Homo sapiens: one gene and its partners. The protein of the gene in region 1 purifies or fractionates together with the protein of each later gene. This does not show direct contact. Each region holds a gene or a part of one and is shown on either strand. Other genes may lie near its edges.

Region 1 (4,396 bases):
CTTGAACATATTCAGGGCTTCAAAAGATTGATCTGTCATGCACCGTCTGCCATGATACTGTGTGAGGATGTGTTCTTCTTCTTAAACATTAAATCAAGAAAGAATCAACAGTGGACCCAGTAAATAGCAGATCAGCCTAGGATAAGATGCCCTAGAAGATGGTGAAGGGAAGTCTCAGAACTACTGTTCTTCAGCAGGCAGCGAAGACACCTGATCCATATTGGAGTGGTGGGATGCGAGCTTCAGGAAGGGATGCCACAAGGAAAAGTGGAAGGGATGATGACTGTCTTCAAGAGGTTACAGGTCTTTAAGAATTTACACGTGAATTGGAGATAAATACAGAGAAAATGAAACACATCAGTAATTCAGTAGTTACCAAGCCCAGAAAGACCAAGTCATACCATGTAGTAAATATAACCAAGGTGCACCAAGGCATTCAACTGTGACTAGTATTAATGGCGTAAAAAGTAATGCCAGCGCTGGAGACTGGCTTAACAACAACAAACACCACTTCATCAGGAGGATGGGTCGGGGCAGGTGCTATGTAAGTGGTAAAACAGCTGTTTGTATCCTTCACTGAAGAATTTATTAGATTTTTATCTAAAATTATGAAGTAGGCCAGGCACGATGGCCCACTCCTGTAATCCCATCACTTTGGGAGGCTGTGGCGGGCGGATCACTTGAGGTCAAGAGTTCGAGACGAGCCTGGCCAACGTGGTGAAACCCTGTCTCTACTACAAATACAAAAATTAGCCAAGTGTGGTGGTGGGTGCCTGTAATCCCAGCTACTTGGGAAGCTGAGGCAGGAGAATTGCTTGAACCCAGGAAGCAGAGGTTGCAGTGAGCCGAGATCATGCCACTGCACTCCATTCTGGGTGACAGAGCTGGACACCCTCTCAAAAAAAAAAAGTAAATAAAATTATGAAAAGCATGTTATTTAGAAATAGGCTAAATACCAGAAGAAGCTGCTGTGTGAGTCAAAAGTGACTCCTTCCAGAACTTGGGAATGGGAGGAGGAAGGGGAGAGAGACAGCTCCAGAGGAGTCAGTTACATGGCTTCCTCCCAGGCCACTCCTAGAGTCGTGCACTAGGTGTGCCCTAGTTACAAACCTTGTCCTGTCAGTATTTGACTTTTTAAATGATGCATACGTATTGCTTTGATAAAAACAGAAACAAAGATTGTTCTGAAATTAGTAACATCCGTAACTTCAAAGATGATTATTACAGGTGACAAAGGTAATCAAAAGTTATTTTAAACTTTTGTCTTTAAGCATTGAAATGATATTACTGTCTGTCACGACAATCTTTTCAATTTGGAATTCTTCTTTTTTTCTTTTTTTCAGTTTGTATGCCAGAAGAAGGGTTTAAAGGTAAGTTACATTTGTCATGTTTTGTTCATGAATGTCAGAGTCATCCTGTAATTTTCTGTTAAAGCGAAGGCTATAATTTGATTTTAAATTTTAATCCAATCTGAGTCTCATGACTGAAATTAATTTTAGTTAAATGCATTTCTTACTCAAGCTTCTTCATTATCTTTTTCAACACTCAGGCCTCAAATGGGGCCTCAGCTGGGGCTTTTGTGTTAGAACTGTTTCTTGCCAGATGTCCATTTGGCCTTCCCTTTCTCATTTTATGGGAGGTTGGGAAATTAGCTAGTGGCATTTCAAGATTTATTTTTAACCTTTTCCCAGTTCTTCCTATCAAGTCCCCTCCTAGAGCAAAACAGTGTGTAACTATTAAGAATTAGTGGCACAAGAATTTGTCAGGTTTTATCAAGTCCAGTGAAAAGATTTAATTAATCACTTAGCATTAAGGCATTTGTTGGATTATTACTTCAAGAGGAGACACGGTGGTGCTCGTACTACATCTGGGCCATGTAGTTGTGCACACCGATAATATTCAAGAAGTCATCAAATACAGACCTCTGACGTTTTCGGATTTTCCTGTTGCTGTCTTGATTCTTTGCTGGCCACTCCAGAAGCCCCTGGCAGGTTGTGATTTTCTAAGGAATGACTTTGAATCACATACCAGCTATTCCTTGCTAAAGCAAATGAGAGACAAATCTACTGGCCAAAATAAAGTCTTCCTCTTGCTGCAGCTGTGTTGTCTGCATGCTACCATTACAAAGGGACTCCTGATGGGGTCAAAACAAAGCAAAAAACGTCTTTATGAAAAATGGTCATTGGCCGGGCATGGTGGCTCACGCCTGTAATCCCAGCACTTTTGGAGGTTGAGACGGGTGGGTCACTTGAGGTCAGGAGTTCGAGACCAGTCTGGCCAACATGGTGAAACCCCATCTCTACTAAAAATACAAAAATTAGCCGGGCATGGTGGCGTGCGCCTGTAATCTCAGCTACTTGGGAGGCTGAGGCAGGAGAATGCTTGAACCTGGGAGATAAGGTTGCAGTGAGCCAGGATTGCACCACTGCACTCCAGCCTGGGCGACAAGAGTGAAACTCTCAGAAAAGAAGAATGGTCATTAAATGAAAGAATCAATAAAATCTGGTTAGTTTGTGTGAAGATACACTTAGGAAGCACATGGCTTTCAACAAAAATGTGATTTAGCGGAGAGCCTGGAGTCTGCTGGTATTTTGTCTTATCCTCCCACACCAAGGTGCGACTGTGTTCATTTATTAAATTTGATGCTCCCTGTTGATGATGTGTTCTTGGTAAATGGAATCCATGAACTTTTAATCTGTAGTTCACAACTATCCCTCCACGTGTGTTTCTTTTCCCAGGTACTGGTCTTCTTGGACATTAATCTTTGAATACTTGCTGACTGCTAAGAAATGACCAGAGGGGAAGAGGAGTTTGACATGTTAGGGCATTAAAGCAAAGGTGGATTTAAGAATTAAACCATTACATGCCCCTTCCAAAAGGCAGAAATCCATTCAAACGTGACTGTCCCAAATGCCTTATGTCAAATAAAGCAGATTGCACTGATGGACATCAGACTTGAAGGAAATGTTTCCAATTTTATATTTAAGGGGGGTGGTGGGTGGGAGGGGGCAAGTAAAGACGGAACAAGTTTAGTAGCAGTAATAGTAAATCATGTTTACATATGAGATTTATAGTCGTGGGAGGGGAATAAAGTTCTGTTATATTTCCTTGCTCGAGTTTCATACCAGATGCGTTGGTCCATAAAGGATTGTATCAAGTAGATGGGACAACATTCTGCTCTGAACGAAAAGTAATTTTAGAGACATAACCTGCTTACCAATGCCTGTCTTTGATTCATATTCTACTTTCAATAAAGCATGAAAGTGAAGAACTTGTCCTAAGTGTGGAAAAGTGTCTTCAGATTTAGACTCTTCTCCATGTCAGCTGCAGCGCCACCCGCCTTACACCTGCCCGGCCGTCTGTCTCTTGGTATTGGGTAAAGGAGGGGGCACCTGCATGTCTCCTGCAATGAGCAAGGAATTATGTCTCATGTTTTGACTTCAGAGGCTTTTTGCTTTGGTGCATTTCAGAAAGGATGGAGAACATTTATTATGTGTGAAAGCATCCTCTTCCGGTTTTGCTGTTATTCAAAAGTGGGAAATGTACCTGGCACGTTTGAAAATAAAAAATCTGACTACCTATCAGAAGAGTAAATCAGACTGAAGTACATTTGGATAACACAAGGTTTCTATAAAATTTGTTCTTCCTGTCCTCCATGTCACTGTTTCTTGGACCTCAGTTCTCTTTTTGAAAGCATTATTCCAAAATGCCCTGAGAGGGTCTCTTAGATCATTGTTTAAAAAAGGAAAAAAGTATATGGATGTGCTGTCCATCCAACTCAGGATTATCATTCTTAGCAACACGTAACCGAAGCAATATTCTTAAGAATATTGAAGGGGTTTTTTTAATTGAACTTAAGACTGGAGTTTTTCCTTTGAAAAAAAAAAAAAAGTTTTCTCTGTTGAGTCCGTCTGTGTAAGTTTGTGGCTGAGATGCTAGCTTAGGCATCTCTCTTGTTAACACTTTTCTTGGCCTTGGGTTTGTGCAAGGCTTTTTCCCCCTTTCATGAAAATGTGAACTCAGATCATGGATGGGGAAGGCAGATTTTGATTTGAGACCCGATAACCTTGGCAGCATCCCTTTTGAATAGCTCCTTTTGTCAGAGTAATTACGGCCATTTGGTAAAATTCTAACTTCGTGTTTGTGTTTCCCCTCTGTGTTTCTAATGTCTTCAGTCTGTGTCCCCTGAGGAGGCAGGGGGTCTCTAATGAGCCTATCTATGGGGGAAGGTGAGAGCTGCACACAGCCCCCTGAGAAACCATCCTAGGAGTGGAACCAAGGGACCAACTGTTCTGGCCTTGAGGTTGGCACAGGGGAAGGACTTGAAGTTGAGCTGATGGATCCTGATTTTTAGATCTCATTGTTTTATTAGCTCCAAAGAAATGAATGCAGGAGC
Region 2 (7,044 bases), on another chromosome or scaffold:
CGCCAAACACTTTGCCGACGCACGCATTGTGGGCACTGGTGAGGGGCCCCTACAGAGGGTACAGGGGGAGGGGGATGGGATGGCACCTCTGGTCGGCTTTCTTCTATGAAAAATGTGGCCAGGTGGGCATGAAGTATGGGTCCAGGGCTCATGCCAAGCCCCTGCTGAGGCACGGTGTGTCCCCGCAGACATCCGAGACTCACTGATGCAGGCCCTGGCCAGCTACGTGTGCTACCCACACTCCCTGCGGGCTGTGGAGCGAATCCCCGAGGAGCAGTGAGTGGGGCCTGGGGGGCACACACCCTGGCCACAAGCACCATGCCCAGCCTCACCCCGTCTCTCCCCTCCTTGCCCTCACAGGCGTATCGCCATGGTGAGGAACCTCCTGGCGCCCTATGAGCAGCGGCCCTGGGCCCAGACCAACTGGATCCTGGTGCGGCTCTGGAGGGTAAGCCTGACTCGAGGGGAAGTGGCTGAGGCTGGCTGGAGGGAGAGGGTGCGCTGTCCCATTGACCTGGGCACTGACCCCCACCTCCACAGGGCTGTGGCTTCGGGTACCGCTATACACGGCTGCCACATCTGCTGAAAACCAAACTTGAGGACGCCAATTTGCCCAGCCTCCAGAGTGAGTATCTGGGTTGGGCGAGTCCTGGGCAAGGCAGGCGGGGGCGCTTACCTCCTACCCATGGGTTCTTTCAGACTCTCCACTTCTTCCAGCCCCTCTCTGGTTCCCCCATTGGGTCCCAGACTCCCTACGTGTCCCCTGGGGTTTCCACTTTCCCTGCTTCCTTCCAGCCCAAGGATACTCGGGATGGGACTCCCCCTCCCCAGCCTTGCCCACAGTCTTACCTACATGTGCCCTTTGGGCCTGGATGCTCTATGTGGGTCATGGTGAGAGGCGGCACCATGTTCCTGGCCTGCTACAGCTCATGCAGACTGAATACTCTGTCCCTTGCCCTTTAAGCTAGCTCCCTGACCTCCAGCCTTGTCCCAGCACCATGTCCTTCTGCTTCTTTTTTGCTATCTGCTGGTGGCAGACCCTGGCCTTGGCTTAGGCCTTGGACACCTGAGTCCACTGGGAGCACAGATTGGAGGTTGGCCAGGTCCCCAGAGGGTATTCACGAGAGTTCCTGGAGGAAGGGACATTTAGTTGGGAGCAGAGGCTGTGCCCTCTCTCCAGGGTCCAGCAAGGACTTTCCCCTAGGCCTGGCCCTTGCAGAGTGCCAGGTGTGCCACACACTGTCCTCACCCTTCATGGTGGCTCTTCTTGGCTCATGTAGTCTGTTTCTGCCCTTGTGGGCAGTGTTTTGGTCCAAAGGGTGTCCCCAGAGAGGCTGAGTGTCTTCTGCTAAGTCACACAGCAAGTCCTTGCCAATTGCCGTGGTCCTGCGTCCAGGGCGGAACTGAGCTGCAAGTGGAGAGCGGCAGTGGGGCCAGGCCTGTCCTGCTGCTGCGGGAACTATTGATTTGTATCAAGCTGGTGGGGAGGTGCGCCAGGCCCGTTGCAGCTGAGGGCTCCGGTTACTGCTGCCTGCCAGCCCAGACTTGGTGCCCACCACCTCGGCCATATGCCAAGGCCAGGCCAAGGGCAGCAGAGGACAGTAGAGGACAGCAGGTTTGCAGCAGGGCTTAGAGTAGGCTCTTGGAGGAGCTGGCCTTGGTGCCGGTGGGGAAGCATCTAAGCCGCCCTGTTTAGGTCTGACCCTATCTGAAGGGTGTGCGACCCAGAACTTGCTGAGGGTCAGGCTGTGGCTGTGTGGCTGCTCTGGACCTGGAGTGGATGGTGTGGTGTCAGGGCTGGACACAGCTGCAGCCTGGGGCTTGCCTAGTAGAAGGAGGGGACAGATTCTGTCCCAACTAACTCCAAGGCAGCTGTCCTCTGTCCCCTGCTTTCATGACCTGAGCATTCCTAGGGAGCCATCTTTCTGTCCTTATACCAAAGCCTCAATGGGCGAGGACAGAGGCAAACAGGCAGAGGCCACTGCAGTGGAGTCCCTGATGATGCCGCCTCCTGTCCCCCTGCAGAGCCCTGCCCTTCCACCCTGCTGCAGCAGCACATGGCGGACCTCCTACAGCAGGGTCCTGATGTGGCACCCAGCTTCCTCAACAGCGTCCTCAATCAGCTCAACTGGGCCTTCTCTGAATTCATTGGCATGATCCAAGAGGTGGGCTGTGGTGGGGCCTCGTGGGTTAGGGTGGTGCAAGGGATGAGGCCTGGTCCTGGGCTAGAGCCAGGTGCTGACCACTGCATGCCCACGTGTTGGTGGCTCAGATCCAGCAGGCTGCTGAGCGCCTGGAGCGGAACTTTGTGGACAGCCGGCAGCTCAAGGTATGTGCCACCTGCTTTGACCTCTCGGTCAGCCTGCTGCGTGTCTTGGAGATGACTATCACACTGGTGCCTGAGATATTCCTTGACTGGACCCGGCCTACCTCTGAGATGCTGCTGCGGCGTCTTGCACAGGTGTGGCCATCTGGGCAACAAGGGTGGGACCCTGGGGATGCCCCATTGATGACGCTCCCCATCCACCAATGGACTCCTGCTCCCCTCACAGCTGCTAAACCAGGTGCTGAACCGGGTGACAGCTGAGAGGAACCTGTTTGATCGTGTGGTCACCCTACGGCTGCCTGGTGAGGACCTAGATGCCCTGCACCCCAACACACTACAGGCCTCGGTTCCTCTGCTAGGAACAGTGAGGCCTGATTCCACATTCTGCCCCCGGACAGCCAGACTTGGTGCTCTGCAGTCTCGGCTCACCCTTCTGTAGAGAGGGCAGTGGGCAGGCCTGGAGCCCTTGAAGCAGGAGCATGTGGGTGGCTCATCTCTTTCCTCCCCTTCCCCTCAGGCCTAGAGAGCGTGGACCACTATCCCATTCTGGTGGCAGTGACGGGCATCCTGGTGCAGCTCCTGGTGCGTGGCCCAGCCTCAGAGTGAGTGTTGGGGACCGTGGGCCCCTGTGGGAGTTGGGTGTGTCTGGTGAGGAGGGGCTGGACAGGGCCTCCTGGTACTTCAGTTTCCTCATCTGGAAAATGGACCTCAGCATCAGGTTTTGAGGCAGAGGGAAGGTGGTGAGGTGTGAACGGCCTAAATAGGGGGCAGACGGAGCTGCTCTAAGTAGGAGAATCTGGGACCCCAGCAGGACAGGTGGCCCTGGCCCACAGAGCCACTGGCTTGTGGCCATGCCTCAGGCCAGGCATGGGAGGCAGGACTCCGGAGGGTGTGCCGTCCTGTGGTGGACAGGGCCAGGCCGCCAGGAGAGCTGAACACACGGAGGACCGCCATTGTCTGCAAAGGCTCTAGCAATAAGCATGTGCTACCTTTATTAAACTCTGGAGCAGCGAGGTCCAGGATGGCCATGGGGGCCCCCAGCTCGGCCCCCACACATGAAGGGCTCCCAGACCCCCCTTCCCTGCCCCCCTGCAGTGGGAGCAGTGAGATGCATATGAAGCCAGGGTACCGCCTCAGCCATTAGGCTGAGACCAGTGCCAGCCCTTAAGAGGCTCCTGCTCTCGAGGGACGTGGAGTTCCGGCTCGGCCCTCCCAGCTCGGCCATGCTCGCCAGGCTTTTCGGGCTTTTTACTGCTGAAAAGCAGGGGTGCAGGCCATGATCCCCTTCACTGTGTCTTGTGAGCCCACAGAATGGGCTCTGCCTTCAGAACAACGGGTGGATGCCCCAGGCCAGAGAGAGCAGGGCCTCTGGCTGGGGCTTAGGCCAGACCACCAGGAACCTCTTGAGGAGCCTTTCCTGCCTGGTGCCTGCCCACCGGACTCTGCGTGAAGTTGTGAAGCTTTCAGGAGGTTGGGTGTTGGTGGATGGAGGGAGTCCCATTTCACCAGAGGGCGGGCTTGTTTCCTCTTTCTGTCCTGGGGTGTGGGCGAGATCTTCCTTCAGAGCCGCCTTCTTTTCCCTGTGGGCCCACTCCCTCCCACCCCCTTGGGAAGGGGAGGTGGCCCTGCGTCAGCTCTTGAGCACCACTCCTCGAGAGCTGTCTCAGCCCCTGAGGGTGGACGGGAGGCTCTGCTACAGGGGTTCTTCCACAGGCTGTAGAAGAACACAGCCACTTCCACAGCTGTGCTGTGTTGAAAGCCACAGGGGCCTGGGTCTCTCAGCCTCACAGGGCATTTGGGCACTAGGAAGTCCGCGGGAAAGCAGGAACTAGCACACCTTGCAGGGCCTGGGGCCTTTGGGTCCTGTGCAGGGGCAGAGCAGAAGGCAGGTTGGGGACCACAACCCCTGTCTCTACCAGTGAGCGAGAAGGCCCATTGTGTTTCGAGGCCCATACAGGAAGCTGGGGGGCCAGGCACAGTGCTTCCCACCAGTATCTGCCAGTTCTCTGGACCGAAGCAGGGAGCAGGGCGAGCAGCAAGAGGGTGGGGGCCTGGGTGGGGGAGCCCTGGGCAGTCTAGGTTGTCATGGGACCCTCGGAGCCTATGGAGCTGGCGGACTCAGAGCCAGCCTTCAGCTGCAGGCCTCCAGGGTTGTAGAGATCGAATTCCTCAGCTACTGCCAGCTGCACGCGGCCATTGAGGCCCCTCCGGCCTGGCTCCAGAAAGACTACGTGCTTGTGGACGCTGGCCTTGCGGCTGGGTGCGTCTGGCGGTGTGGTGCTGAGTACTGAGGACTGTGCGCTCAGCTCTTGGAGCGGGCTGGGTGTTTGGGGCCAGCGGCGGCAGCGGCAGGCACGGCGGCAGCAGCGGCAGGGTGGGGCGAACAGGTAGAGCAGCACGAGCACAAGGCCCACGGCACAGCCCAGCAGTGTGGTGAAGCCTGTGTTGAAAGCCTCGGGCTCTGGGCGCGGAAAGTGCACGCTCACGTTGTACTCGTGCGTCTGGTTGTGGTGCAGGCGGGGCCCAGTGGCCAGGCACACGAAGAGTCCCGCATGCTGCTCCTGTACGTTGCCTATGGCCAAGCTGCCGTCGGCCAGCACCGCGATGCTGCCATCGCGGGATCCTGGCGCCCTGAGAAGCTCCTGCTGCGGCGAAACCCAGGCAATGCGCATGGCCGGGACGCTGGTGTTGCAGTAAAGCCTCAGGGACCGACCCACCAGCGCGTACAGGTGCTCTTCCGGCCGCTCTAGGCCAAGAGCTGGGGCCGACGAGCAGTTCTCAAAGACGCGGCTGTGCTGGAAGAAGCGCACGCGGGACGCGGGTACCTTGAAGGCCAAGCATACGTACTCGCGCGCAAAGTCGCGCACGGCGCTCAGGCCCCGCTGGTGCCAGCGCTGTAGCAGGTGGTAGAGGCGGCAGTCGCAAGGCAAAGGGTTGTTGTGCAAGTAGAGGCCGTTCTTGAGGAAGGCCGGCAGCGCGGCCAGCTCAGGTACGGAGATGTGTCCCAGCCGGTTGGAGGAGAGGTCCAGAGTAAGCAGGTGGGTGGCGCTCAGACCGTGCAGGTGGTCGAAGGAGAACGAGGCGAGTTCGTTGCAGCCCAGGTAGAGATGGCTGAGCGCGCGCAGGCCGTGGAAGGCATGCTCGTCCAAGTGCACCAAGCGGTTATTGAACAGAAGCAGCTTCTCCAGCGCCCCCAGCCCGTCGAGGTCGTGGCGGCCAAGCGCCCGCAACGTGTTAGATGATAGATCGAGCAGCCTCAGGCCGCTGGCGTTGACGAAGACGCCGCGACCCAGCGCATCTAGTTCGTTGTGGTCTAGGTGCAGGGCGCGCAGCTGGAAGAGGGGCGCCAACCAGCCGGGGCGCAGGCGCTGGAGCGCGTTGTGGCTCAGGTCGAGGTCCGCAGTAGCGGCAGGTAACTCGGCTGGCACGTCCTGCAGCCCTAGGCCAGTGCAGCTTAGCAGGTCGGCAGCGCAGATACATTTGTAGGGGCAGTTGTGGAGCGCACGGGGCGGGAAACCCTCGGAGTCCGGGGTGCCTAACCCAACGCGCAGCATGCAGAGCAGTGTCCCCAGCAGCACCAACCAGGTCATGGCGGCGACCACCAGGGACAGTACAGAGCAGCTCTGTGCAGGTTGCAGTTCCAGGACTCACCCTCTTCTGCTCTAGTGCGACATGGGTGGCACCGGATGGCCCTTGCCGAGGAGGCACGGCGGGTTCTTGCCAGCCGACGGCCCCTACTCTCCGGTTCCCAGGTTGTGAGGCGGTGCGGCACTCTTAGCCGCGCTCCCTTCGGCTTCGCTAGCCCTCTCCAAGCGAGTTCCTGATCGGCTCCTAAATACTCCCCCCAGGGGCGGGGCCCGGGCTCCTATTGGTTCCCGTTTGAGGAGGCGGGGCGGCTACATCCCTTTGTGCCCAATGGCCCCGCATGACCGCCAGATGGGGAGCAAGGCCAACCCCAAAGTCCCCGTCAGCCTTTGGCTGGCAGCTCTCCGCCGCTCGTTTTTCCTCGGGGAGTAAAAGGGGGAGTCTGGAAGAATGTCTCCAAGCTGCTGTTAGTGTTTATTTGAAGTGACTTTGAAGGACTGATAATATTATGGGGCAGGCAGACTCTCACTATCTTAAGGTGGTTCGCCTGAGCCTTCTTAAAGTGGTACCCCAGGCCGGGCGCGGTGGCTCACGCCTGTAATCCCAGCACTTTGGGAAGCCAAGGCAGGTGGATCACCTGAGGTCAGGAATTCGAGACCAGCCTGGCCAACCTGGTGAAACCCTGTCTCTACTAAAAATACAACAATTAGCCGGGCGTGGTGGTGGGCGTCTGCAATTCCAGCTACTCGGGAGGCTAAAGCAGGAGAATCACTTGAACCCGGGAGGTGGAGGTTGCAGTGAGCCGAGATCGTGCCATCGCACTCCAGCCTGGGCAACAGAGCGAGACTCGTCTCAAGAAAAAAAAAAAAAAAACAGGCTGTGTGGCACCTTACTAGAATACAGGACTTGGGGTTTGGGAAGCAGGGAGACGGAAAGGATGCAGGGGGGGTGATCATGTACGAGCCATGGCACTCCTCATTGGCAATCCCAAGAGAGACTTTTAGCCAGGCCCCAAGCCTTCTGACTGCCCTTGCACCCTCCCCTACCTAGGAGAGAGCAAGCCACATCAGTGCTCCTGGCAGATCCCTGCTTCCAGCTACGCTCAATATGCTATCTCCTGGGACAGCCAGAGC
Region 3 (7,000 bases), on another chromosome or scaffold:
CAGGCATGAGCCACCACGCCCAGCCGCATGTTTACTTTTTAAAATAAAATAGAAATATGGCAACTAGCTTTGTAAGTTAAAGGAAACTCAGTTTCACAATAACTTATTAGCTTGAGCACACATTTGCACCAAAGCCAGTCACAACCCTAAAAGTTCTATAATGTTGGTTGTATTATATACAACATGGACTGTTCTTGCTGTGAAAAGATAAAATACTTTGACTTTTGTTACCTGCAGTATATGAAATGTGTTTCCTTTATTTTGATTTCTTGGGCCGACTGAAGGGTAAAATGTCCAAGCTGAAATATCACTGCCAAGCAAGTTCACTAAACCCAGCTACAACGGATGCAAAGGGTTTTGACTGACGTGCATTCCTCTGATATCTTCCACCTTGAAGTCTCTGATGAGGTAGCAAGGCAAAAAAGTTAAATCTCTCTCCCATCTTCTTTGGATTCATTAACATATCATATCCTTGAAGTAACTGCTGCCTCACTGATGGCTCATTTGATTTATCTAAAAGAACCTGAAAAGAAAAAAATTCTTAGCAAAAATAACCAGAAGACAGGATTCCTAGTTACATGCAGCAATACTAATGACTCTCAAATATTCCAATAAAACAGCACTCAAAATGTGACTTCTGATTACCTGCCTGAGAATCATAGAGTACTTATTAAAAATGTAGATTGGTGTGAAACAAACCTAAGGATTTGCATTTTTAACAAATATCCTCAGGGGGTTTGATCTACAGTAAGGTTTAGGTGTTCTCAGAAGAACAGTTAGAAAATTCATACCCATAAACGCAGTTTTCTTAACAAACAAAAACACTATTTGGAAGTCTTAATGCTACCTCCCATGGAGATGCATAAAACTTACCAGACTAGTTACTAAATCCTATACTACCTGAAAAGACTGGAATACCAAGGATTGGCTAACTACAAGAGCATTAAGGCCAGGTGAACATACTATTTAAAGTAATTTTTGAAATACTATGAAAGTACTTAATAACAGTGAAATAAAATAAACCTTACCTTCAGCCGGACATCAATACCCATATTTTTTAAAAATGTGTGTTGTTTTATTGGGCCCAGAGAGGCTACTTTTCCCTGTGCCATTCTTCGCAAATAACTGAAGTCCACATCAGCTGTTAGATCTGCTGTTCCTGGGGCAATTAAGACATCATGAAGCTTGTGGTCGCAAAACCCCTTGAACATAAAGAAATCAGATTTTTGCCCTTTTATGGTTATTAAGATTAAAGAAATGCTATCATATTAAAGTTATTTAATATTTACATTAATGCTTGAGGTGACGGAATAGAGCTCTCATTAATTCTCTAGGCAGGGAACACCTAGGCAGTGTTTTACAAAGTATATGCATCAACCATGCATCAGAATCACCTGAGATACACTACAAACTACTACACAGCCATAAAAAAAAATGAAATCACGTCCTTTTCAGCAACGTAGACATAGCTGGAGGCCATTATCCTAAGTGAATTAATGCAGGGACAAAACCAAATACCACATGTACATCTCACTTAGAGCTAAACACTGGGTACACGTGAACATACTTATGGGAACAAACACTGGTGACTACTAGAGGGGAGACAGGAGGAGGGGAACAAGGGCTGAAAATCTATCTACTGAGTACTATGCTTGCCACCTGGGTGACAGGCTCACTCGTACCCCAAACCTCAGAGTCAATGCAATATACCCATGTAACAAATAACAAACCTGCCTCATGTACCCCCTAAATCTAAAATAAAAGTTGAAATTACTTAAAAAAAAATCACCTGAGAATATATTACTGACCCTAACCAGACCTGGTCAGTCAGAATCCTGGAGGTAAGGCTAGAGAATGAGTATTTTCAACAAACTATCCAGGTTATTTTTAGATAAAGTTAGAAATTAAGAACCACAGACCTAGAAAATGACTAAGAGCATTTAGTTAAATGTTTTTCAATTAAAGTATATTGAATAGAATTGATTATATTCAAAGATCATTAAGAAAGGATGTTTAGGAACAGTGTAAAAGAATACATCTGGAAAGGGAAAAAATGTTGAAAATATGATAGAAAAAGCTAGAATGATTACAGTAGGTAGTTTAAATCTGTAAAGAAGTACCAAAATTTTTCTTGAATGAAGGGGGTTACAGATAGGTTTAAGAATGTGAAGAAAATCTTTCCATTTGTATTATTCAGCTGCTTATCTGGATTTATATAAACATAGGTTCTACAACTAAGGAAGAATGTACACAATTCAGATCCTGTTAAAGGAGGGCTGGACAGTAGACTCAGTGTTAGCAGTAAGAACTAGGGTTAAGGGGAATTACAATAACATGAATTAATGTTAACTATAAAATAATGTAATACAACAATACCAGGCACTGTAGAAATCAAAGCTCTTCAATGGGCTTCAGATCTAACACTGAAATTCTGATAAATCATGTTACTGAATTATACATACTCTGAAGGTATCTGTCTTTGTTCCATCATGACCATAATCAGCAACCAGTGCAGCACCTCCAGTTAATGCAATGCGTTGAGAAAGTTCCTCGATGATAACACCAGCATCAGGACACACTTCAACATGATCCCTTGTTTCGTCATGCTAGTAAAGGGATCATTGCAAGAGTCAAAATGCATCATTCAAAAGAATGACTTCCTTACGGTTTTTCAGGTTTTTCCTCAATGAGCATTTCTTAGTTTTAATAAAAATAAATTCTTAATATGAGTATGTTCTCTACACTCAACTTTTCACCTGACTCCCTTTTTATTATACAAAACTCCTTAGTTCTTTGATGCTATCCCACTTGATATACAAAGACATTTTAATCTCTTTTATAAAAAGGCAAATGCCCTCCCAATCCCCCCAGATGGCCTAGAGCATTATCATTTAATGTAAAATTACTTTTGTATCACAAATCATATAAACACATTCCTCTAGGTTGAAAGCATGGGAAAGGGATTTTTTTTGTCTGCCTAGAACAGTGCCAGGCACATAACAGTCAATGAAAATATTGTGCTGAAAGAACAAATGGTATAAATCCAATAACACGAAGCAGACCCTATTAGACAATTATATTATCATGCCCTCTGTTGTGCCAGAAAGTATCCCAATGATATGCCCTACATCAAGAAACGCTGGCTTATAAACTAGTGCCAATGTATTGAAACCGTTATTACCCCAAGATGTCCACTTAACTAAGGGGCCACAATAAGTGTGTACTAGCTTAAAAAGCAAAATCACACTAAGTATTAACACTTGTCAACCTGACTAGTATATATGAAATTTCACTACTTCCTGATCTGATTGAAAATGTGGTATTTCTTTCCCTTCATTATGAAAACATACATTAACTTGTACTCCTTCCTAACACCTTATTATAGAAATGCAGTAATGACCTGCCCTGATGTCTGCCTATGGTAACAGGCATAGAGTCAGATGAAGTTAAATCTCAGCTCTTCCTATGCTTACTGGTAGACAAGTTACTTAAACTTTCTGAGTTGTTTTCTTCCTTATAGATATTGTAGGTTTATTGTGAGGATTAAATATAACTAACCATTTAGCTAATAGTGCAATCAAATTACTGTGGCTTAACTATAAAAACCATGAAGTCAGCCTCATCAGGCATCAGTGGACACGCTGATCATGCTGACATTCTATCTTAGGCTACTCTTCAAGATGACATGTATTACCACGCATCTCATTCAAGTGAAAGAGAATATTCGCTCCCTCCCTTCCTAAGTGAATACTAATTAGGTCAAGAACTAAATGAACTCCCAGGGCCAGGAGGTTAGTTCTTGGTAGTTCTATGAATATGTCATTCAGGTAAACTTAGATTGCTATACTATGAAAAAACAGGTGTTCATAAGTGTTCAGTCTGACATTTAAATTTATACTTAACAAAACTTAATTCATACATTTAAGTTTAAAAGCTCTTGTGCTTTTAAAACTGATAATTTCTAAGTAAGAAGTTCTCAGTTAAGGTCCAGAAAGTAAAAATCATCTTCTGAGCTGGAAAAAAAGGATTAAAAAAAAAGAGGCAGTCTGAAGCCTGGACGTTCCTGAGAAGTACAGGGATTTTTTTGTACCTTTAAACAAGCCACAATAGACAGGCTCTTGCAATGATTCCTTGAGATCAACAGAAAGCAGTAGTAATTCTACCATTCTGGCCGAATCAAACTGAGATCTGTGTGGAAGCATGGGATAAAAGCCATGCTGTAGCCCAAAGAAGGATAATAATAGAACCTACCTAATATAGTTGCTTTGAGAATTAAATGAGAAAACAGAGTAACACAAAGTACTCAACAAACGTTAGCTGTTATTGTTAATTTACTATAGTCTGTACTACATTGCTTTCACAGATGTAAACTCTTCCTGTGGACAATACCATTACCATTTGACATGAAACTGAGATAAGCAGTGAAAGTAAGAGACTTGGCTGAGTAAGCGGTTACTTACTTTCTCTTACTACATGACGTTAAGGTCACACACTTAAGAAATGATTTTAACCCATGCTCCTGCCTCTAGCTCCTCTGCACTTTCACTGTCAATAAAAAGCACCTCGTATGCTACTAGCAACTCTTCCTGTAAAGGAACTCTAAAACTCTAAAGTAGTAACTCAGAAAATAAGACTTTGAAGATTCTGTGAGCAATAAAAGAAACTTAAAAAAGCATATTCTTACTTGTATGAAGGCTTCTGCTGGGGTGGCAGAAGGTGCCAAAACAAACCTCAGTTTATCAGAAACCTGTGGATCAATGTCAACAAATACTTCTCGCCATCCCTGTGGTGTTTTCTAAACACAAAATAACACATAAAAACAAATTTTTGCAAGTTTGTTCTCTACATTGCTTCTACCAAAAATAGCTTTTTCTCCTCTTACCATAAGTAACTAACATTTACAGAGAACTTACTATTTAAAATTACTTAAATTCATTACTTCATTGCCTTTGAACAATGAGTAGACCAATCGATGCAAAAGAAACAATAACAGAGATGACGCTGTGGAAGATAAAATCAGCAGCATGGAAAGTACCCCAAAAACGGAAATAGACTCAGGAAGAACAGCCAGAAGCTTTACTAACAAATTACTACAGGATCATGAGAGCTGCTCTTCTCCTCACAAATTACCAGTACATATACATTATCACCAAATCTTAAATCTCCTCACAGAAAGAATGAAGAAAAGTTTTATTATTTTTTTTTTGAGACAAGCTCTCGCTTTGTTGCCCAGGCTGGAGTGCAGTGGTGCAATCTCAGCTCACTGCAACCTCTGCCTCCTGGGTTCAAGTGATTCTCATGCCTCAGCCTCCCTAGTAGCTGGGAAGTACAGGCACGTGCCACCAAGCCCAGATAATTTTTCTATTTTTAGTAGACACAGGGTTTTGTCATGTTGGCCAGGCTGGTCTTGAACTCCTGACCTCAAGTGATTCACCCACCTCGCCCTCCCAAAGTGCTGAGATTACAGGTGTAAGCCACCATGCCTGGCCCAAAAAAGTTTAATCTATAATTTTTTAAAATGTGCTAAGGTTGGCTGGGTGCAGTGGCGCACACCTGTAGTCCCAGCTCCTTGGGATGCTGAGGCAGGATGAACACTTGAGCCCTGGAGTTCAAGACCAGCCTGGGCAACATAGCAATACCCTATCTCTTAAAAAAGAAAATTTTTTTTTTGCTTAAGTAAATCCTTCATTGCACCACAGCCAGTTACCATCTTACCATTTTTCATTCCCTTACTTCTTCAAATCAGAAGAATTAAGAATTCTTAATAATTATCCCAGGAGAACTAACAATTCTCATTAATATTTCATTTTTTGCTTTTGAATTATTTGTGTACCAAAATTCCAAATAATAGTTAAAAATAACCTCAACAAGTAAAATTTGTATACTGAATAAATACCATAAACATTGGCAACACAATGCCTTTTGTATTCAATTATAGACATGACTTTTTTCCCCCCTCAATACCTGAAATTTATGCACAGGAAGAACATCAAAAAATTCATGTGCAAGATAAAAGCTGTACCCTATTTAAAAAGAGGAAAACAATTAATGTTTCCACATTTCACAGGAATTAATTCTTTTGAATATTAACTGTAAAAAAAATGCCTACTTCCTCCATAATCATCACTACCACAGAATTATCTACCTCTTCATGGAAAACTTACACTGCAGAACATAGAACAATTATTACTATTCTTATTTTACACATAAATGGGGTCAGAAAATGGAAATACCTGAAATAGCAGTTAAAGCTTTTATTCATCACAAGGCTTGAAAGAAATTAGAAGTCAGAGTTGTTAGCTGGAAGGGAATTTGATTTCATAAAATCGGGCTTCTCAGCCTGAGAAGGCTGAGGCAGGAATGGCTTGAGATCCCTTACCCAAGATCGTACCCCCACTTTGGCTTTGAGTCAAGACTCAAACTAGTCAATACTAGTCAGTATTCCTGACTAGTACAGGGATTTTCCCCCACACCTTGCTTGTCTTTAGGCAAGTAAGGATTTTTTAAAAGACTCTATAACTGAACTAAACCCACCTACTAACACTGCTTCCATCAGCCCCAGCTGCCTTGGGCTGCTCCGTCATCGGTACAACCCTAGCTATAGGGAAATACTCAAAAGTACAAAGGAGATTTACATTTTGTTTGGGATTTTACAAAGCTTCATGAAATAAACTACTACTTAATGTCAGGCAACTTTATTTTCTATTAAGATGCTCTTTTCTAGAAAAAAGTAGGCTACTCTCTATGGATAAGGGACTTGGCAGCAGTAACTCAATCTATTATATTGCTGTAAAAAGTTACAGTCCCATCAATACTGTGAGGGTTGTGATCAAAATTCTTTCATTAATCCACATAAAGGTAATTACCTTTTGGAACATCGTGCAGATCTCGGTACCAGGAAATTGGAATCCCAGACTTAGTGACACCTTTCATATACACTGGGGATCCAGCATTTCGCTCTAACGGGACCTTCTCTTTAGTCAGTGTCAATGCTTGAATC
Region 4 (7,044 bases), on another chromosome or scaffold:
AAAAACTCACGGATGAACTTTGTAGCCTAGAAATACCCAAAAATTAAGAAAATGTCATGAATGCATGAAATCTATGTACATATTAGTCTATTTTATCATTTACTACCATAAAATATACACAAATTATAAAAAGTTAAAATTTATCAAAACTATGCGTACACTTACAGACCATAGATGTCGCCATTTGCAGTTAAGAGGAATGTAAACAGATGTAAAGATGCAGTATTCAGTCATAAGTGCATAAAAGTCACTGTAGTACATACTGCACTACTGTAATAATTTTGTAGCTACTTCCAGTTGCTATTGTGGTGAGCTTAAGTGATGTATCTGGTTAAAGCACATGTGACTCTATTCATCTTTGCCTGAGCAGTTCCTCTCTCCAGTAAATTGAATATTGCAGGAAAAAGTGATGTCTTGAGATTCTTGCATATTTTTTCATCATGTTTAATGTGCAATACTGTAAACCTTGAATGACATCATGGGACCCATACAAAGTGCCACCAGTAATGTTGCAAGTGCTCCCAAGAAGCTGAGAAAAGTCATGACATTACAATAAAAAGTTGAATTGCTTGATTATGTACTGTAGACTGAGGTCTGCAGCTATGGTTGCCTGACATTTCAAGATAAAATGAATCCAGTGGAAGGACCATTGTAAAAAAAAAAAAGAAAAGCCATCATTGTAACTACACCAGCAAGTATGAAAACCTTACACTTTTTGTGAAAGATTTTTTTATCTTATATTGAAAATGCAGCACTGATATGGGTGCAGGATTGCTGAAAGAAAGTCATAGACTCTAACATGATTTGAGAAAAAGCGAAGTCATTATAAGACCACTTAAAGCAAAAAGAAGGTAAAGGATATAAAGCTGTAGAATTCTTTTTTTTCCATAGGTTACTGGGGTACACAGGTGGTGTTTGGTTACTTAAGTTCTTTAGTGGTGATTTGTGCGATTTTGGTGCACCCATCACCCAAGCAGTAAAGCTGTAGAATTTAATGCCAGCAAAGGATAGTTTGATAACTTTAGAAAGAGGTTTGTCTTAAAAAAAAGTCAGACACAACATGAGAAGCAGCTTCTGCCGATCAAGAGGCAGCAATGAGTTTCTAGACGCCATAAGGAAAATCACTGAAGAGAAAGGATATCTACCTGAATAGGTTTTTAATGTAGAAGAAAGTGCTCTATTTTGAAAAAAATTGCCACAAAGGACATTTATTAGTAAGGAAGAGAAGCAAGCACCAGGATTTAAGGCAGAAATGGATAGTTAACTCTACTGTTTTCTGCAAATGCTTTCAGGTTTATGATCAGGACTGCCCTTACATATAAAGCTGCTAACCCCTGAGCATTGGAGGGAAAAGATAAACACCAGCGGCCAGTCCTCCGGCTACATAACAAGCAGGCCTGGACAAGAACCCTTTTTCTGGATTGGTTCCATTGATGCTTTGATTCTGAGGTCAGGAAGTACCTTGCCAGCAAGAACTTTTAAAGTTCTTTTGCTATTGGACAATACACCTGGCCACCCAGAACCCCAAAGTTCAACAATGAAGGTGCTGAAGTGGTTTACTTGCTTCAAAACACAACATCTCAAATTCAGCTTCTAGATCAGGGCATCATAAAGGACCTTTAAGGCTCATTACACAAGGTACTCTATAGAAAGGATTGTCAATGCTATGGAAGAGAACCCCAAGAAAGAGAACATCATTAAAGTCTGGAAGATTATACCATTGAAGATGCTATCGTTGTTACTGACATCAGACAATCTGGCAGAAGGGTTCCGACGATTCAAGATTGCATTGATTTCTTTAATGACATGGACCCTTCTACAACAGGGGCACCAAAAAGAAACTAAAGAAAATGACAGGAGGATCAGTATTGTATAGAAACATTTTTCCAGAAATGAGAAAGCAAAAAAAGTCACATAGTAGTTACATATTTCCATAGTTACACTGTGTGTGCCTGCCTCTCTTTCCCTACCCTTCTGCCTCCACCTCTTTTGATTCTGCCACCCCTAAGACAACAAAACCAACTCCTCCCCTTCCTCCTCCTCAGCCTACTCAACATGAAGACAACAAAGATGAAGACCTTTATGATAATCCAGTTCCATCTAATGAACAATAAATATATTTTCTCTTTCTTACATGATTTTCTTAACATTTTATTTTCTCTAGCTTACTTTATTCTAAGAATACTGTGTATATATATATATACAGTATATAATACATATAATATTAAAAATGTGTGTTAATTGATTATTTACATTATCAGTAAAATTTCCAGTCAATAGTAAGGCTATTAGCATTTAAGCTTTGGGAGAGTCAAAAGTCATATGTGGATTTTCGACTGCACAAGAGGTAGGGTGGTAGGGGAGTTGGCACTCCTAACTCCTTCATTGTTCAAGTGTCAACTATACTATACTACACACTTAAAAACTTGTTAGTAGGGTAGAGTTCATGTTATGTGTTTTTACTACAATAATAACTTTTTAGAAGGTAAGTTGGAGTTATGTTCAAAATAACTCGGTAAGCTATAGTATTTGGACTTGTACTATGAGACAAAATGGTCGGAACTGTGGCTGTGTGAAAGAGAACGGAGAGAAAAGAGAACTTCTGGAATTTATCTTTATCTTACCCTACCTTCATCAAGCTTACTGATGAAATCTATCTCCCTGAGATATTAAGAGGCTAAGGATCCTCATTTCATGCCTTGTCCCTAAAATAAATCATTGTCCAAAGTCCTAGGTCTTATACTAGTCCCCATAAGCAACAGATACAGATTTTTAAAAAGAGAAAATACAGCTGGGCACGGTGGCTCGCGCCTGTAATCCCAGCACTTTGGGAAGCCAAGGTGGGCAGATCATGAGGTCAAGAGACTGAGATCATCCTGGCCAACATGGTGAAACCCCGCCTCTACTAAAAAAAATACAAAAATTAGCTGGGTGTGGTGGTGCATGCCTGTAGTCCCAGCTACTCAGGAGGCTGAGGCAGGAGAATTGCTTGAACCCAAGAGGCGGAGGTTGCCATGAGCCGAGATCGCGCCACTGCACTCCAGCCTGGATGACAGAGCAAGACTCCATCTCAAAAAAAAAAAAAAAAAAAAAAAAAAAAAGAAAAAATACAAAACTACCAAATCTTCAGATTCAGTCACTATAAAAAAAAAAACCCTCAAACATTTAAGTTAATTTTTAAAATCTAAGAAAATAAGAGCTGGTTATTGTGTGAAAATCTCACATTTTGGCATTTTGGTCTTTGTATTTCTTTTTTTTTTTTTCTTGACATGGAGTTTTGCTCTGTAGCCCAGGCTGGAACACAGTGGTGCCATCTCAGCTCACTGCAAGCTCTGCCTCCCCGGTTCATGCCATTCTCCTGCCTCAGCCTCCCGACTAGCTGGGATTACAGGCGCCCGCCACCGCCACCACACCCGGCTAATTTTTTGTATTTTTAGTAGAGACGGGGTTTCACTGTGTTAGCCAGGATGGTCTCGATCTCCTGACCTCGTGATCCACCCGCCTCGGCCTCCCAAAGTGCTGGGATTACAGGCATGAGCCACTGTGCCTGGCCACATCTTTGTATTTCTACTAAGAAAACCTATATGTAGTCAGTAACTCTTTTAGTATTCCCTAATAATTCACTCTTTTAGTACCCACATAAATTTCTGGCTTCCTGCCCTCACTATGACAAATTCTTAAGGAAGATATTAAAACTCAAATATGCACATTGGTAAACAACTAGATGTTTGCAATAAGACACGCATACCAAGTGCTAACAGCTACACCAAAAGATACTCTCCGTCAAACAAAAGAAAATGGCTTACCTCTAATAATAACAGCTAAACTGCTATATTCTATAACTCTCAGTAAAGCAAACTGCAGCCTACTTACGTAGCATTGTAAATGGAAAGTTTAGTCACTGGCCTACTGAAAATTATGTTTATCAGCATTATAGGGTTGGAGGGACATTAAAAAAGTTTCACAAGGATTAAACTAAAAAATGAATAAAATTAGTCAATACTATCTCAAAGAGGTGCCATTTGTTAAACCAAGAAAAACATGACCAAAAGGACATTAAGAATATAATTATAGATTAAGAATCCCAACGTAAGAGTCCCACTCTCCCTTTTTGCTTATTATCTTCAAGCCACACTGACCTGCTTGCTGTTTTGCAAGAAGGCAAGCTTGCTCTCATTTCAGAGATTTTACACTATTTCTTCTGCTTAGAATGTTCTTTCTTAAAAATCTTGAAATAGTTGACTTCTTATCACTTAAGCCTCTATTAAAATATTGTATTACAAATATCACACACATCATTTCTGATCACCCTATCAATAAAATGGCTACTCTTATCCTTAGGTCACTGCCTAACTCATTAACCTGTCATAGTTTCTTCAAATCACTTACCATTAACTGTTTGTCTGCCACTCCTATCAAAAAAATGTATGGTCTTAAAAACTCACTACTGTAATCCAAATACCTAAAACAGTACCAGGCATTTAATAATAATAGATAACCCTGTGCTACACACTGTTTTAAGTGCTTTAAATGTACTAATTCAGTTAACCCTTATACAACAACTTAAGGTGACTTCTAAACCATATTTTATAATCAAGAAATCATCTTTAAAATAATTTTCACATGAGCAAGATTGTTAGTCTTCTATCTCTTTTCCCAAGCATAGAGTACAAAACAGGATTTGGACTCAACATGCCAGATGGTATGTATTAGCTCCTAATAAAGTGCCCATTATTGACTCTGCATCTTTTTCTTTACTTTAAAAAGTATTCAAATTTCATGAAAAAGTATAGTTTAAAAAGTCTCATCAAATTTCATTCAAATCACAACTATTCAATCATACAATACTTTAATTACTAAAAAAGTATTCCAATTTCCTGAAAAAGCATAGTTTTAAAAGTCCCATCAAATTCCATTCAAATTACAACTCTTCAATCACACAGTATTTCTCCACTGTCTATAAATTACAGAACAGGAAATATTTTAATGAGATTACAATGAAGTAATATTCTCTAGATGTTATTGTATGACTAAAGTGAAATATTATTCTTCATCAACTCCTGCACTATCAAGAACTTAAATACGTATTATTGTCCAAAAATGAAAGGGTTATTTTGCAAGGGCAGCAAAATCCTTCTTAGTCCTATCACCTAAACCTAAAACAACTGAGATTTAAATATTATCCGAATGTAGATAAAAAAAATCACAGAAACCCTAATTTTAACTTGAGAGGAACTCTTTATATATATGTGTGTATATATACACACACATATACATATATACACACATATATATACACATATACACATATATATACATATACATATATACACATATATACACACACATATATATACACACATACATATATACATACACACACACACACACACACACACATATAATTCTGCATAGGCTGAATGGTATCTTCAAAGAGACTACTTGATTATTTGAGAACAATTAATGGGGAAAATAAGTTTCAGTTTCTATGAGATTCTTACCTATACAATGCATCATCGATTTCCACAGATGCTGTTGACATAATGGGCAAATTTTTATTTGTGCTGGAAAAAAAAACATGGTTATTAAATATTCACATTTTATAATGTAATATTTGATTACTTGTGTGATCAGATTCACCAGTTACTAAAGGTTTTCACAAACCAAACATATATTTTATTAACAACCACTTTACTTATATTTTTTAAATGGCCTGAAATTAAATTATCGGATTGCTTGTTCTATCCTGTGTAAATTTTAAGATTACAGAGCTCATCATCTTTTATTCTCAGATCTCAGGTGTTGTTTTATCACTGGTACATAAATACATATATATATATTTTGTTGTTGTTGTTGTTTGTTTGTTTGTTTTCTTTTTTGAGATGGGAGTCTCACTCTGTTACCGAGACTGGAGTGCAGAGGCACGATCTTGGCTTACTGCAACGTCCACCTCCTGGTTTCAGACGATTTTCATGCCTCAGCCTCCCAAGTGGCTGGGACTACAAGTGCACACCACCACATCCAATTAATTTTGTAATTTTAGTAGAGATGGGGTTTTACCATGTTGGCCAGGCTGGTCTTGAACTACTGACCTCAAGAGATCCACCCGCCTCAGCGTCCCAAAGTGCTAGGATTACAGGCGTGGGCCACTGTGCCCGCCTGTTTGGTACATATATTCTAATGGATCTGTATTTCAGCAATTCTGTACCATGAACTTTCTCTATATATACAGTCTTCCCAGATAAACTCATTCAATCCTATTGATGAATATATATTGATTATATTGAAACTTATTTCTCCACGTGTGATCTTTCCTCTGACCTCCAGATTGTATACAACTGCCAAAACAATAACTATTCTGATGTCTTAACTGGTATCACAAACATAACAAACTCCAAAGAGAATTCAATTACCCCTGCTTAATCTATTCTTCCTGTCTTTCCTAACTCATTTTCCGCTACCATCATTTACTGGGTTGGGCCTGAAATCTAGGGATCTTCTTGCTTAAATCATTCCCCAGTTTTCTCCATCTGAGACCTGTTAGCTCTACCTTCATAAGATATCTCAAACCTGATCATTTCTTACTATTTCAATCAGTACAATCTCAAGCCAAACCATCATCACATTTCACCTGGGCTATTTCAAAGACCTAGCTAGTCTCCTTATTTCCAGTATTGCCCTTCCCCTTTATTCTCCATAAAACAGTCTAAATATCTTAAAATGCAGTCAGAAATTATTCCCTGAATTTGGACTACCCTTCAGTGGATTTCCTTTACTCTTAAAACAAAATTCAAACACCTCACTATGCTTGAGAGGGCCAATGTGTCCTGTCTCCCAATTATCTCTCCAATTTCAACTCCCACCAGTCTCCGTTTTCGCTTACTATCTTCAAGCCACACTGACTTGTTTGCTGTTTCGCAAGAAGGCAAGCTTGCTCTCATTTCAGAGTTTTTACCTATTTCTTCTGCTTAGAATGTTCTTTCTTAAAATCTCGGAATAGCTGACTTCTTGTCACTTAAGCCTCTATTAAAATATTGTGTCACA

The links.
Region 2: the proteins of USP48 (region 1) and RNF123 purify together in Homo sapiens (affinity purification with mass spectrometry; 3 studies listed by BioGRID and IntAct, with this or other methods). This does not show direct contact.
Region 3: the proteins of USP48 (region 1) and NDUFAF7 purify together in Homo sapiens (affinity purification with mass spectrometry; 3 studies listed by BioGRID and IntAct, with this or other methods). This does not show direct contact.
Region 4: the proteins of USP48 (region 1) and UBA6 fractionate together in Homo sapiens (co-fractionation; 3 studies listed by BioGRID, with this or other methods). This does not show direct contact.

The regions. Positions count from the first base shown.
Region 1 is NC_000001.11:21,677,782-21,682,177, reverse strand, and holds the end of USP48 (ubiquitin carboxyl-terminal hydrolase 48), read left to right. Parts: intron 1-1,343; coding exon 1,344-1,370; intron 1,371-2,738; coding exon 2,739-2,761; 3' UTR 2,762-3,880; downstream 3,881-4,396.
Region 2 is NC_000003.12:49,713,550-49,720,593, forward strand, and holds part of RNF123 (E3 ubiquitin-protein ligase RNF123), read left to right. Parts: coding exon 1-38; intron 39-188; coding exon 189-276; intron 277-360; coding exon 361-448; intron 449-540; coding exon 541-625; intron 626-2,025; coding exon 2,026-2,165; intron 2,166-2,272; coding exon 2,273-2,461; intron 2,462-2,552; coding exon 2,553-2,628; intron 2,629-2,843; coding exon 2,844-2,928; intron 2,929-3,279; exon of another isoform or gene 3,280-4,401; coding exon of another isoform or gene 4,402-5,916; exon of another isoform or gene 5,917-6,135; intron 6,136-6,366; exon of another isoform or gene 6,367-6,961; coding exon 6,962-7,044. Other genes in the region: AMIGO3 (amphoterin-induced protein 3 precursor), read right to left, coding at 4,402-5,916. UniProt on the Homo sapiens protein: Catalytic subunit of the KPC complex that acts as E3 ubiquitin-protein ligase. Promotes the ubiquitination and proteasome-mediated degradation of CDKN1B which is the cyclin-dependent kinase inhibitor at the G0-G1 transition of the cell cycle.
Region 3 is NC_000002.12:37,241,658-37,248,657, reverse strand, and holds part of NDUFAF7 (protein arginine methyltransferase NDUFAF7, mitochondrial), read right to left. Parts: coding exon 6,867-7,000; exon of another isoform or gene 6,234-6,866; intron 6,024-6,233; coding exon 5,965-6,023; intron 4,796-5,964; coding exon 4,685-4,795; intron 2,607-4,684; coding exon 2,463-2,606; intron 1,203-2,462; coding exon 1,029-1,202; intron 524-1,028; coding exon 308-523; 3' UTR 1-307. UniProt on the Homo sapiens protein: Arginine methyltransferase involved in the assembly or stability of mitochondrial NADH:ubiquinone oxidoreductase complex (complex I).
Region 4 is NC_000004.12:67,691,144-67,698,187, forward strand, and holds part of UBA6 (ubiquitin-like modifier-activating enzyme 6), read right to left. Parts: intron 5,565-7,044; coding exon 5,502-5,564; intron 1-5,501. UniProt on the Homo sapiens protein: Activates ubiquitin by first adenylating its C-terminal glycine residue with ATP, and thereafter linking this residue to the side chain of a cysteine residue in E1, yielding a ubiquitin-E1 thioester and free AMP.